2 separate regions of the Homo sapiens genome follow, and region 2 is linked to region 1. The links come from fine-mapping of genetic effects on gene expression. A gene starts in region 1. The other region holds a variant in brackets. All regions are shown on one strand. Distances are between the middles of the regions.

The links. PIP is the estimated chance that this variant, and not a neighbour inherited with it, causes the effect.
Region 2: its variant is fine-mapped to the expression of IL12RB1 in whole blood (INTERVAL, PIP above 0.99).

Annotation. Positions count from the first base shown.
Region 1 is chr19:18,085,070-18,089,069 of GRCh38, forward strand. It overlaps IL12RB1 (interleukin 12 receptor subunit beta 1), which reads right to left and starts at 1,865. Exons shown (of 17, transcript NM_005535.3): 1 at 1,691-1,865. The coding sequence starts at 1,754. RefSeq lists enhancers at 1,777-2,126, 2,137-2,196.
Region 2 is chr19:18,057,398-18,061,906 of GRCh38, forward strand. It overlaps IL12RB1 (interleukin 12 receptor subunit beta 1), which reads right to left. Exons shown (of 17, transcript NM_005535.3): 15 at 3,725-3,800; 16 at 2,497-2,688; 17 at 1,598-2,216. The coding sequence ends at 2,211. Among named protein-coding and RNA genes, the nearest start is that of IL12RB1, 27 kb to the right of the region's middle. The variant T/TC (reference allele first, on the strand shown) is at 2,058.

The DNA of each region.
Region 1 (4,000 bases):
TGCCCTTTGGGATTGCCACAGTCTGCTAGGTGTGGAACTGGGTGAGAGAAGGAGGGGGATGCCACCATGGATGGGTCAGGAAGACCCCGGCGCCCTCACTCCCACAAGAAGGACCTGTCCTGAGCCCTGCAGGCAGATTGGAAGCCTTGGGGGAGAAGGCGGCACCCCAGGAAACAGCCCCAAGTGTCCAACCTTGAGGGGGGAAAGATGCTTAACACACAAGGCTCTCCATCCTTCCATCTCTCTCTGTGATGACACAGAACCCCCACCCACCCACCCACCCCTGAGAGCCTAAAGCCCATCCTCCTTCCCTTTCCCTGGACTGACCACTCACTGCCACTATCTCCAGGATACCTCGTGGGCTGCCTCTCGCCCCCTCCCTGCTGCTGGTCTCCAGCCATGCCTGGCCCCTGAAGGCGCTGGGACCTTGAGGTGTGGCCAGCACTGCTGTGGGCATTCTACAGGCACTCAGTGCATCTCAAGAGCCATTGAAAAAGTCAGCACCCCGCTGATCCCCAGTGTACAGAGAAGGAAAGTTTATTTATTATTATTATTATTGAGATAGAGTCTTGCTCTGCCACACAGGCTGGAATGCAGTGCTGCAATCTCGGCTCACTGCAACCTCTGCCTCCTGGGTTCAAGCGATCCTCCCACCTCAGCTCCTAAGTAGCTGGGAGTACAGGTGCCCATCATCAAGCCTGGCTAATTTTTGCATTTTTAGTAGAGATGGGGTTTCACCATGTTAGCCAGGCTGGTCTCGAACTCCTGACCTCAAGTGATCCACCCATCTTGGCCTCCCATAGTGCTGGATTTTCAGGAGTGAGTCACCGTGCAGGGCCTGAGATTATTAAAAGTATATGGGAAGGCTGGGCATGGTGGCTCATGCCTGTAATCTGAGCACTTTGGGAGGCCAAGGTGAGTGGATCATTTGAGCCCAGGAGTTCGAGACCAGCCTGGGCAACACAGCGAGACGCTGTCTCTGTAAAAAGTATACACCAAAAAAATTAACCAGGCATGGTAGTGTGCACCTGCAGTCCCAGCTACTCAAGGGGCTAAGGCAGGAGGATCACTTGAGCCCAGGTGGTCAAGGCTGCAATGAGTTATGATTAGGCCACTGCACTCCAGCCTGGGACACAGAGTGAGACCCTACCTCAGTAAATAAATAAATAAATAAATAAATAAATAAATAAATAAATAAATAAGTAAAGTATACGGAAGGATGTGCATAGGTTATATGCAAATACTTTACCATTTTATATCAGGAACTTGAGCATCTTTGGATTTTGGTATCTGCAGAGGGTCCTGGAACCATTGCCCCGTAAATATGGAAATGACTGTATACATTATATTATGTATGTCTATCTATTGTAAACTACATACATAAGATACTATACTATGTATACCTATTAGATACATACTTGCTTTTTATTCCTTCCTTAGTTTTTTTTCTCATTGAACTCCGGGAGGTGGAAAAAATTTAGTGCATTTCACAGAAGAGAAAATCTAGACCAGAGGAAAGATGTCTAAGTTCGATCCCAGAAGCCATGACTGCCCATCTCCCATTTGACAGCAGGAAAGACTGAGGCACAGAGAGATGAAACCAACCCACACAGCAGGCCCACAGCTCTCCACACATACACGTGCCTCCACCCAGCAAGAGGAGCCGCCATGCCAGGGTCAGGGGACTCACCGCCCTGCCTGGACAGCAGGAAGAGGAAGAGGAGGGGGACCACCCAGGTCACCAGCGGCTCCATCGGATCCACGTAGAGCCCCACAGCCCCAGGGGAGCCTCTCTGCCACCTGCGAGGTTCAGCCACCCCGTCCCCACTCCGGAACACATTGAAGCTGAGCAAGGAGAAAAGACTGAAAAAAAAGAAAAAAGAAAAAAAGTAAAGTGTCACAGCCCATCCCTAAGGCAAGTCAAAGTGAAAGAGAAACCCAGGAAGTCAGCTCCGTGGTGGTGGTGATGGTGGCGGCCACAGACTCTGGAGCAAGTCTGACTTTGGAGCAAGTCAGGGTTCTAGGGGGTTCTGCCCTGCTGGCCCCAGACCTGAACTGAACACCCAGATGCCAGCCCCATGGGCCCATGGGCCACCTGTGGTTCCATGCACTTGGCCAGGTCTCTGGCCCTCTCTAGCCAATTTTTTTTTTTTTTTTTGAGATGGAGCCCTGCTCTGTCGCCCGGGCTGGAGTGTGGTGGCATGATCTCCACTCACTGCAACTTCTGCCTCCCGGGTTCAAGCAATTCTCCTGCCTCAGCCTCCCGAGTAGCTGGAATTACAGGCAACTGCCACAACATCGAGCTAATTTTTGTATTTTTAGTAGAGACAGGGTTTCACCATGCTGGCCAGGCTGGTCTCGAACTCCTAACCCTAAGTGATCCACCCACCTCAGCCTCCCAAAGTGCTGGGATGACAGGCGTGAGCTACCGTGCCTGGCTGCCAAATTCTTTTTTTCTTCTTTTGAGATAGGGTCTTGATCTGTGGCCCAGCTGTAGTGCAGTGGTGCAATCACGGCTCACTGCAACATCAACCTCCCCAGGCTCAGGCCATCCTCCTACCTCAGCCTCCCCAGGAACTGGGACTACAGGCATGCACCACCACGCCCAGCTAATTTTTGCATTTTTTTTTTTTTAAGAGAGGGGGTTTTGCCATGTTGCCCAGGCTGGTCTCAAACTCCCGGGTTCAAATGATCCGTCCGCCTTGGCCTACCAAAATTCTGGGATCACAGGCGTGAGCCACCGCACCGGGCCATCTCGCCAGCTTCTGAATCTGAGACTCAAGAGCTGAAGGAGGGCAGTGTTCTTGGATGGCCTAATTTCATCCTTCCAACAAATTGTTACAAAGAGCTTGCAGCATGCTGGCCCTCCACAATGCCCACCTCCCCACATGCCAAGCTCCAGCCTTGTGCACCTGGGCTCACCCCTCTAATCCCAGCACTTTGAGAGGTCGAGGTGGGAGGATCACTTGACCCCAGGAGTTTGGGTCTACCTAAACAACATAGCAAGACCCCATCTCTATAAAAAATAAAGAATTAGGCCAGGCGCGGTGGCTCACGCCTGTAATCCCAGTACTTTGGGAGGCCAAGGCAGGTGGATCACGAGGTCAGGAGTTTGAGACCAGCCTGACCAAAATGGTGAAACCCTGTCTCTACTGAAAATACAAAAATTAACCGGGTGTGGTGGCAGGCACCTGTAATCCCAGCTACTGAGGAGGCTGAGGCAGGAGAATCGCTTGAACCCAGGAGGTGGAGGTTGCAGTGAGCCGAGATCGCGCCACTGCACTCCAGCCTGGGCAACAGAGTGACACTCCATCTCAAAATATATATATATATATAAATTAAAAGTTAGCCAGTCGTGGTGGCACACATCTGTATTCTCAGCTACTCAGGAGGCTGAGGTGGGAGAATGGCTTGAACCCAGGAGGTTGAGGCTGCAGTGAATCGTGATTGTGCCACTGCACTCCAGTCTGGGTAACAGAGCAAGATCCTGTCTCTTAAAAAAAAAAAAAAAAAAATTTAAGAGATGCAACTTAGTCTTTCCCCCATGTTCCATTTCTTAGCCTCTGAGTATTTTGTTTCCTGCCCCTCCCTCCCCACTGTCGGCAAAGCCTCTAAATGTCAGTGGAGAAGCTCTGATCCAAGCTACCATGTGGATGAACCCTCAAAAACATAATGCTGGGCTGGGTGCAGTGGTTCACATCTGTAATTCCAACACTTTGGGAGGCCGAGGTGGGCGGATCACCTGAGGTCAGGAGTTTGAGACCAGCCTGGCCAACAAGGCGAAACCCTGTCTCTACTAAAAATACAAAAATTTGCCAGGCCTGGTGACATGTGCCTGTAATTCCAGCTATTCGGGAGGCTGAGGCAGAGAGAATTACTTGAACCTGGGAGGTAGAGGTTGCAGTGAGCTGAGATCGTGCCACTGCACTCCAGCCTGGGTGACAGAGTGAGACTCCATCTCAAAAAAAAAAAAACACACATACACAAAAAAAAAAACCCA
Region 2 (4,509 bases), 27 kb before region 1:
CTTGCCACCACGCCCAGCTAATTTTTGTATTTTTAGTAGAGACGGGGTTTCACCATGTTGGCCGGGCTTGTCTCAAACTCCTGACCTCAGGTGATCAGCCCGCCTCTGCCTCCCAAAGTGCTGGGATTACAGGCGTGAGCCACCATGCCCGGCCTAAAATATTTTTTAAAAACAGGAACCAGATGGAAAATATTGGGTTTCAGGTATGGCTGGATCCAGGAACTAATGCTTCATCTCGGTGCTGCTGTCCTCCCTGCAGGCTCCTCTCTCAGACAGGCATCCCCACGGTAGGAAGGAAAGAGGCTCCAAGCTCCAGGCTTCCCTCTGTCCAGCTCAGTCTCCCGCTAGTGGAAGCAGGGTGTGCATCTTCCCCATGCACTCTGGCAAAAGTCCCAGCTGCTGCCAGTAAACATTGCCTGTCTCCTACTTCTCGCACCCAAGGGACTGTGCATAGGGGTGGGTTTGCAGCCAACTCCAGGGGCCTCCAGGGCTCACACCTGCAATCCCAGCAGTTTGGGAGGCCGAGGCGGGTGGATCACTTGAGGTCTGGAGTTCAAGACGAGCCTGGCCAACATGGTGAAACCCTGTTTCTACTAAAAATACAAACACATTTTAGCTGGTCAGGGTGGCGGGCGCCTGTAATCCCAGCTACTTGGGAGGCTGAGGCAGGAGAATCGCTTGAACCCGGGAGGTTGCCGTGAGCCAAGATCGCGCCATTGCACTCCAGCAACAAGAGCCAAACTCCGTCTCAGAAAAAAGAAAGGAGGATAAACGCTCAAGGGAGGGCATGCCTGGTGGAGGGAACGGCTTGAGCAGAAGCTGGGATGTGGCAGATCCGGAGCGGGGCGGGGGGCATTTGCAGAACTCTGACCAGCCACCGTGTGGCTGGGGCACCGAGATCCAGGCCTCTGTTTCCCTATCTAGATGCATCGATGGGGAAAGGGAGGCCCCCAGACCAAAGGGGCGGGGCCTGGGCCTCTTGCCTCCTGGCCCTATTGGCTGCCAGGGGTCTCTCCCCGAGAGGTCTCATCCTTTTTTTGCCACAAAATTCAGTAGTTCTGGGCTTTTTAACTCCCCTCCTCTGTCTGAAACCGGAAAAGTCTGTTTAGCAAACGCGGTGGGAGGAGGCAGGGCGGGCCCGGCCGGGGAAACGCGCGCCGCTGTTGCCACCTGGTGGCCATGGGGAGAATCTGGACTACCCGCTAATCGCCAGGGCTGGGGTGGGATTTCAGGAGCCCCCCCCCACACCTCGGCTCAGACCGCAGTGGGGATCAGGGGGAGGCGGCTGCAGAACGCGAGGGAGGTGGGGCAGTGTGGGCAGAAAGAGGGAGGATTCAGGGTGTGTAAGGGGGGCAAGGGTCCTGCTGCGAGTTGGTGGGCGTGAGGAGGAAGGAGCGTGGGGGCAAACCACGGTTCCTGTTACCGGAGTGCCCGGCTGCTCCACTCCCCCTAGGCCGTCCCTTCCCCTGCTCAGTCCTAACTTAGTAGGGTTCCAAGCTCTCATCCGGCTCTGTCTCCCCCGGATTAGGTGCTCCTGGAGGAGACCTAGAGGAAGAGATTAATAAATATATGTGGAATGAATGAATGAATGAATGAATGAATTCCAAGGCTCGTGTTTTGAGATTTTGAGCAGGACATTCAAGCTTCAAACAGGAAAAAAATACCCAAGAGGAGGCTCATTTACGATGATTTTGAACAGCTGTGTAAGGTCATTATCACCACCCCCATTTTATAGGGGGGTGAGGGTGGGGTGGGGGGTGGGATGGGAGGACCGTCATTTTTCCCACAAAGTTTACAGCCCCCTTCCCTATATGCCTGGATCCTCCAAGCTACAAGACCCCGCAATGCTGCAGGGAGCCCTTGAGTCCAGACTCCCCATCCAGTGCTCCTGGGGGTGGATGCCCAGCCCAGGGTCCAGGGATCCATCTGAGCCCCCCTTGCCCCCATTCCCAGTCCATTCTACGCCAGAACAGGTAAATGGCAGGGTCTGCTCCTGCCCCACGGATGCCAGGCCCAGCAGGGTGCAGCAGCTTCCATTTCATGGCAGCATCTAGGGT[T/TC]CCCCCGCAGGATGGGTGGCAACAGGCACGGGGCAGAGAGGAGGCAGGTGCACTGGAGCCTGGAGGAGCTCTGGGTTATTTGGGTCCAAATGTGACTCCTGTGTGTGCTACGTAGCCTCGGGCGAGTCACTCACCCTCTCTGAGCCTCAACGATCACATCTGTAAAGTACAACAGTCATGGTTCCTTTCAGGGGGTGGTTGTAGGGATTTGGTAGGGAATCATGTGAGTGGATGGAATGGGCTGGGTATGCCATAAGTGCTTAATAACCAGCCGTTGTGATTGAGATAGTCGCTCTTCGTGTCTGTAAGACAAAGTGGATGTTTTCGTTTCTCCCTCAGGCCTCCAGGCCCTGATATCCCAGGAGCGATGGATGTCTAGCCCCCCCACCCCCCGGGCAGGGTTGCACCCCTGACCGTCTGGCCCACTGGGCCCCAGGACCTTGGCCTTGCACCTGTCTCCATCCTCCAAGGACAACTCTGTATCCAGGGCCAGCTCAGGGGCACCCTCAGGTAGCTCTGTCTTCTCGAGAGGCTCAGTCCTCTCGCCTTTGTCCCAGGACATCTCTACCACCAGGGCCTCCTGCAGGGATGCCTCTTCCTGGAAGTCCACTGGGTTGATCCACTGCCAAGTCTGCAGAGGGAGGGTAGGGCCACAGCTGTGAGCAGAGCTCTACTTCCCATCCACAGCAGGATGGAACGGACCAGGTCACTGCTGGTTAAATTCTCTAACATCCTGAGACCTGGACGGGTGCAGTGGCTCACACCTGTCATCCCAGCACTTTGGGAGGCTGAGGCGGGTGGATCACTTGAGGTCAGCAGTTTGAGACCAGCCTGGAGAACATGGCCAAACCCCATCTCTACTAAAAATACAAAAATTAGCTGAGCTTGGTTGCGCACGCCTGTAATCCCAGCTACTTGGGAGGCTGAAGCAGGAGAATCGTTTGAACCCGGGAATCAGAGGTTGCAGTGAGCCGAGATGGCGCCACTGCACTCCAGGCTGGGTGACAGAGCGAGACTCCATATATCCTGAGACCGATTTGAGGATGGAGTCTGCCGCACTGACTCCCATTCAGCCCCTCTTAGGAAGAGCACTCCCATCTGTCTTTGGGAAATTTCCCTCCCTCTTTTCACAGATGGTGTGGTTGACAGTGCAGTGACCCCACCTCAGCTCTAGCAATGGTCATGTGACCCTGGCCAGCCCACCCATCAGACCCTTCCCTACCCCTCTGGTTCTAGCCATAGGCTCAGGGAAGGGCATGTGACCCAAGCTGGACCAATCAGTGATGGCCCTGAGACTTTTGCCCCAGTTAATGGGGAAAATGGACACCCTGCTTCCAATCAGAGAAGGCTCAGCCTGCCTGCGGAAGAACCCTGAACGGGCAGCTCCGAGATAGACCCCAATCGCTGGATTCAGGCATATCTGAAGCCCATTCCCTTGGGATTTTTTCCATCAGGTTTCCTTTATAATAAAGCCACTTTGAATTCTGTTTCTAGTGCCAGGAAATGGACCTCTGCCTGCCTGTCTTTAAAATGGGAAGGGGTATGGAGCACTGGTTTTGGAGTCCTTACCTTGATGAATTGGGAGAGAATAAAATGAGCTAATGCGTAACCCTTGTCCAGCATGTGCACCCAATAAAAAGACTTGGAATTAGAAAAGGCATCCTTACCTCCTTCCCTCCAGGGAACTCAATGGCGGAGCTGGCACAGGGTGTGGGCAGCGGCGGGCACAGGTGCCGTGCGGCCCTGGGGAGGAAAGGGGACCAGTGAGAGGAGCTGAGGTTTTTTTTTTTTTTGGAGACGGAGTCTTGCTCTGTTGCCCAGGCTGGAGTGCAGTGGCGCGATCTCGGCTCACTGCAACCTCTGCCTCCTGGGTTCAATCGATTCTCCTGACTCAGCCTCCTGAGTAGCTGAGATTACAAACGTGTGCCACCACACCCGGCTAATTTTTGTAGTTTTGGTAGAGAGAGGTTTCGCCATGTTGGCCAGGCTGGTGTCCAACTCCTGGCCTAAAGCGATCTGCCTGCCTCAGCCTCCCAAAGTGCTGGGATTACAGGAGTGAGCCACCGTGCCCGGCTTGAAAGCAGCTTTCAATCAGACATGCCCACCAGTGTCACCGCCCCTTTCCATGGGAATGACCAAGGACCCAAAAGTTACTATCCCTTCCCTAGAAATTTCTGCATAGGATCACCTGAGGTCAGGAGTTCAAGACCAGCCTGGCCAACATGGTGAAACCCTATCTCTACTGAAAATACAAAATAAATAGCTGGGTGTGATGGCACGCACCTGTAGTCCCAGCTACTTGGGAGGCTGAGACAGGAGAATGGCTTGAACCCGGGAGGGGGAGGTTGCAATAAGCCAAGATCGTGCCACTGCACTCTAGCCTGGGTAACAGAGTAAGACTCCATCTCAAAAAAGAAAAAAAAAAGAAAGAAATTTTGCATAAACTGCCCCC